Linked DNA regions of Homo sapiens: region 2 is linked to region 1. Evidence: fine-mapped expression QTL. A gene starts in region 1. The other region holds a variant in brackets. All regions are shown on one strand. Distances are from middle to middle.

Evidence for each region.
Region 2: its variant is fine-mapped to the expression of MRPS18C in lymphoblastoid cells (GTEx, PIP 0.97).

The regions. Positions count from the first base shown.
Region 1 is chr4:83,454,567-83,457,492 of GRCh38, reverse strand. It overlaps MRPS18C (mitochondrial ribosomal protein S18C), which reads right to left and starts at 1,435. Exons shown (of 6, transcript NM_016067.4): 1 at 1,316-1,435; 2 at 535-584. The coding sequence starts at 1,415. HELQ (helicase, POLQ like) reads left to right here and starts at 1,670. Exons shown (of 18, transcript NM_133636.5): 1 at 1,670-2,096. The coding sequence starts at 1,800. RefSeq lists enhancers at 1,383-1,677, 1,664-1,773, 2,114-2,163, 1,592-2,422.
Region 2 is chr4:84,130,783-84,133,708 of GRCh38, reverse strand. The region is part of intron 7 of LINC02994 (long intergenic non-protein coding RNA 2994); the gene reads left to right. Among named protein-coding and RNA genes, the nearest start is that of LINC02994, 170 kb to the left of the region's middle. The variant T/C (reference allele first, on the strand shown) is at 1,254.

The sequences.
Region 1 (2,926 bases):
GTAACTACTCTTCAGCTCTGTGCCAAGTGCTTTGTATGGTCTAATTAGTGTCAAAATACCTTTGCATGTAGCAAGAACCTGTGCTTTCAGAAAGTCCATGTTAATACTATAGCCAACCTATAGCTAAGCTTTGTACAGTCTCTTTTCAGTTATCTAAAATTCTGCTCACCCAAACTACCTTTTAAAATTCCCATATCATTTGCTTACAAAGGGCTATGTAAAAAAAAAAAAAACAATTCCCAAATCACATATCCTTAAATTTAAGATCTAGGAAGAAAAATATGGTATTATAGCAGCTTTGCTTCTAATCTAGGAATTCCCCTACTTCAAAACTCAGCTGACTACATGACTACAATCAATTCATCATCATTTCTGAACTCAGAGTAATTATCAAATTGTTTTGTCCTACGGCAGAACTCTATTCAAGTAGCTAAAATAAAAGATGTTAGAGTCTAATACCAGATCTCGTTTTAAAAAGAAAAACATTTTGGTCATATTTGCAAAGGCCTTACTAATAGAAAAAAAAATTCTTACCAGGTCCTCATTGCTGGATACCTGTTGTGAACAACCTCTTCTCCAAAGCACTGCGATTAAACAGAAACAGCAATTAACCATTTCTTTTTCTTAGCTGAATAGCTAAAGATTTTTGTTTTTATGGAGACAGGATGAATTAAGGGACACGATATTAAAGAAAGGTTTTGTATTATATTCAGAATGGTTAAAAACTTTTATATTTGGGACAGAGTAAGACTCAACATGGGTGTGCTTTCCAGGGCTTAGGGGGAAAAGAACATATTTTCCCGCCCATACCTGCTCTTTCTGACATTTATTTTCCCTTCATTCCATGGTTAGAGAAAATTCTTAATGCAAATTCTTATAGGAGAAGCAACAGAAAGGCACTGTCATACCAAAAAGAAAGTAACAGACCCGTCCCAGAAAGAATTTATAGAGAAGCACAGAGAAGATAAAATTGCAAAAATTATGCAATTTTGTTCTGTTTGGGGACCTTAGACATCTGGAATTTGCTGCTGGGCGACTCTGGAAATGTCCCTTCCTCACTAAGATTATCCAGAGATCTTAGGAAAGTCTCTGCTTTTTAAGAACCACTCCAACTTCCTCATACGTTTAAATACTTTAAAGGAGTGGATTAGACGACACTAAAACAGTCAAAGGCAATTACAGATTCCCACCCATCTTGGAGAAACTTAATCGCCTAGAAACCAGAGTCGTTTTGCTAACAGGGACGACTCTAACCATTAGGACTAAGGTTAATGCCTGCAGCGCTACAATGGAGCATAGGATATGGAGACTTTACCCGTGTGAGTCCCGGGATGTGTAAGGCTGACAGCAGCCGTTACCAAGTGTGTCAACTTCTTCCTCCCTAGACCACCGCAAACAGCAACCACAGCGGCCATGGTTCCGCGTTTCTTCCACTTCCTTTCGTTCCAAATCGTTCCGAAAGGCCCCTTCCGCTGCTCTTCCCCTGTGGGCTCGAGTACCCCGTTCAAAGGTTCCGCAGGAGAACGCTGAGGACCCGCGAGAGTAGGTGAGGTTTTTCAATACGCATGCGCAGCACCTTTCTGTTCGTGCCCTCCCTACGCGGCAGGTCACGTGAGGCTTATGATTGGACAGGGTAGAAGTTTATGCGTGCTTCCGGTCCGCGAGCCCTGAGAGCTAACTTGGGGTCTTTTCCCAAGGTGGATGTAGAAGCGGGCTCCGGCGTCCCACTCTCCCTTCCATATGGGCTTAGCGTCTGGGTCACTGAGAACGACGTCTGAATAGGGCCCTGGGTCCTTGCCATGGATGAATGTGGTTCCCGCATCCGCCGGCGGGTGTCTCTCCCCAAAAGGAACCGTCCAAGCTTGGGGTGTATTTTTGGCGCTCCCACCGCGGCCGAGCTCGTGCCCGGAGATGAGGGGAAAGAGGAGGAGGAAATGGTGGCTGAGAACAGGAGGCGGAAAACCGCGGGCGTACTGCCGGTTGAGGTACAGCCCCTTCTACTCTCAGATTCCCCGGAATGTCTCGTCCTTGGAGGTGGTGATACAAACCCGGACCTCCTACGTCACATGCCCACTGACAGAGGGGTGGGAGACCAGGTACGGAGGACTTGGAACTTGAAACTGCAAACTTTTGGCATCCTTCCCAGATGCAAAGAGTTGACCAGTTTTATCGCCTTCGTTTACTTCTCTCGTCTTCGTTACCACTGTTAATCGGCACTTAGGAGGTATTGATTGCCTTGTTATTTACATTTCTATATAAATATGAAATGTAAACCCCGAGACATAAAAGTTGTGCACGCAGCAGTTAAGTGGCATGACTGAGACACAAATCTAGGCTTCCAGATAACTGCAGCTCCTACTGTACAAATAAAATCTGCTGTTTATTGAAGACCCGTTATGTTAAGCTAGTTATATTATCTAGATTTTACGACAGTAATCAGGCCCTGAAAAGTTGAGATAGTACAGTTCTTGCTCCAAATCCTGTTGTCTTAATCACTTTACTATATTGCTGCCTCCAGGTTTGTGTGTCTTCTGTGTAGCAGACCACTCCAAGTCAGTATTCAGTTTCTCAGTCTCAATTCCAAATTCCTAGGAACTCCTTGGAGTGTCTAGTGGTACAACCATGTTTCTGTTAGAGGCCAGTCACTGTAGATTGTAGTCTGGGAGGGAAGCGCTGCAGTTATCAGAAACTTCGAATGCGCTGACATTTCAGTAGACGTCTACCAGTCTTCCTGCTGTTTTAGTACAGCTTTAAGAATTACAATCTGGCCGTGTGCAGTGGCTCATGCCTATAATCCCAGTGCTTTAGGAGGCAGAGATGGGAGGATCACTTAAGCCCAGAAGTTCGCGTTCAAAACCAGCCTAGGCAACAGAGACCCAGTCTCTACAAAAAAAAAAAAAAATTTTTTTTTCTTAATTAGCCGGGT
Region 2 (2,926 bases), 680 kb before region 1:
ATGAGACAACAAATAATAACTTTTAATGAGTTAATGTATTAAATTACTTAATAGATTTCTTAATTATAAATCATTCTTTCAGATCCAGAATGAGTCTTCTTTGGTCATAATTAATTTAAAAAAATATTTCTGGAATCATTGACTAATATGTTATTTAGGATTTTTGCTTCTGTAATAAAGCATAGCTTATAAATTTTCTTCTTTGTACTTTCCTAATCCATTTTATGTATGAAATATATATTATTATTTCTAAAATAAGTTGGAGAGCTCTTGTTCCTTTTTCTAGCCCATAAAACAATTTATATAAATAGAAGTTTTTTCCTTGGAAGGCCTGCAAAATCTGTGAAATTGTATGAGTCCTTTGCTTTTATTTGAGGGCAAGTTGTACGACTGATGTGATTTCTTTAATAGATCTAGTCAGTGTTTAATTTCTTTCTTTTTTTTTTTTTTTCACCCTGTTCTAATTTTATTTCTGTCTTTTCTTCCTGAAGAAATGACCTAACCACCCAGGCTCACCTTCACATATTCATTGCCATTCTGTGGCTCTTCTGCCTTTAGGAAGTGTGGGGCACCAGGGACTCCTGTAATGACATGAACCTGACCGAGGGCTTGTGCAGCTGCCAGTTATTACTTTGGCTATTACACTTTTCCCTGCCTTTGTTGTTTCTTTGTTTGTTTGGGGCAACAAAAACAAGACAGGCAATCAGACATGGCCCAGATTCTCAAATGTGCATTCTTGTCACAGCTGGGCCTCCATTCTAAGTCCATCTTGCATTGAGGCAACATGTTTATGCTTAGTGTAGTGCTTGGCATGTTGTAAGAGCTTATTAAATGCTTCTATCAGAAGAGTCATTTTCAAAATGTCACTTTTACTATATTACTCTCTTGATAAACTTTTTTTTTTATTATTATACTTTAAGTTCTAGGGTACATGTGCACATTGTGCAGGTTAGTTACATATGTATACATGTGCCATGCTGGTGCGCTGCACCCACTAACTCGTCATCTAGCATTAGGTATATCTCCCAATGCTATCCTTCCCCCCTCCCCCTACCCCACAACAGTCCCCAGAGCGTGATATTCCCCTTCCTGTGTCCATGTGATCTCATTGTTCAATTCCCACCTATGAGTGAGAATATGCAGTGTTTGTTTTTTTGTTCTTGCGATAGTTTACTGACAATGATGATTTCCAATTTCATCCATGTCCCTACAAAGGACATGAACTCATCATTTTTTATGGCTGCATAGTATTC[T/C]ATGGTGTATATGTGCCACATTTTCTTAATCCAGTCTATCACTGTTGGACATTTGGGTTGGTTCCAAGTCTTTGCTATTGTGAATAATGCCGCAATAAACATACGTGTGCATGTGTCTTTATAGCAGCATGATTTATAGTCCTTTGGGTATATACCCAGTAATGGGATGGCTGGGTCAAATGGTATTTCTAGTTCTAGATCCCTGAGGAATCGCCACACTGACTTCCACAATGGTTGAACTAGTTTACAGTCCCACCAACAGTGTCAAAGTGTTCCTATTTCTCCACATCCTCTCCAGCACCTGTTGTTTCCTGACTTTTTAATGATTGCCATTCTAACTGGTGCGAGATGGTATCTCATTGTGGTTTTGATTTGCATTTCTCTGATGGCCAGTGATGATGAACATTTTTTCATGTGTTTTTTCGCTGCATAAATGTCTTCTTTTGAGAAGTGTCTGTTCATGTCCTTTGCCCACTTTTTGATGGGGTTGTTTGTTTTTTTCTTGTAAATTTGTTTAAGTTCCTTGTAGATTCTGGATATTAGCCCTTTGTCAGATGAGTAAGTTGCGAAAATTTTCTCCCATTTTGTAGGTTGCCTGTTCACTCTGATGGTAGTTTCTTTTGCTGTGCAGAAGCTCTTTAGTTTAATTAGATCCCATTTGTCAATTTTGTCTTTTGTTGCCATTGCTTTTGGTGTTTTAGACATGAAGTCCTTGCCCATGCCTATGTCCTGAATGGTAATGCCTAGGTTTTCTTCTAGGGTTTTTATGGTTTTAGGTCTAACGTTTAAGTCTTTAATCCATCTTGAATTGATTTTTGTATAAGGTGTAAGGAAGGGATCCAGTTTCAGCTTTCTACATATGGCTAGCCAGTTTTCCCAGCACCATTCATTAAATAGGGAATCCTTTCCCCATTGCTTGTTTTTCTCAGGTTTGTCAAAGATCAGATAGTTGTAGATATGCGGCGTTATTTCTGAGGGCTCTGTTCTGTTCCATTGATCTATATCTCTGTTTTGGTACCAGTACCGTGCTGTTTTGGTTACTGTAGCCTTGTAGTATAGTTTGAAGTCAGGTAGTGTGATGCCTCCAGCTTTGTTCTTTTGGCTTAGGATTGACTTGGTGATGCGGGCTCTTTTTTGGTTCCATATGAACTTTAAAGTAGTTTTTTCCAATTCTGTGAAGAAAGTCATTGGTAGCTTGATGGGGATGGCATTGAATCTGTAAATTACCTTGGGCAGTATGGCCATTTTCATGATATTGATTCTTCCTACCCATGAGCATGGAATGTTCTTCCATTTGTTTGTATCCTCTTTTATTTCCTTGAGCAGTGGTTTGTAGCTCTCCTTGAAGAGGTCCTTCACATCCCTTGTAAGTTGGATTCCTAGATATTTTATTCTCTTTGAAGCAATTGTGAATGGAAGTTCACTCACGATTTGGCTCTCTGTTTGTCTGTTGTTGGTGTATAAGAATGCTTGTGATTTTTGTACATTGATTTTGTATCCTGAGACTTTGCTGAAGTTGCTTATCAGCTTAAGGAGCTTTTGGGCTGAGACAATGGGGTTTTCTAGATATACAATCATGTCATCTGCAAACAGGGACAATTTGACTTCCTCTTTTCCTAATTGAATACTCTTTATTTCCTTCTCCTGCCTAATTGCCCTGGCCAGAACTTCCA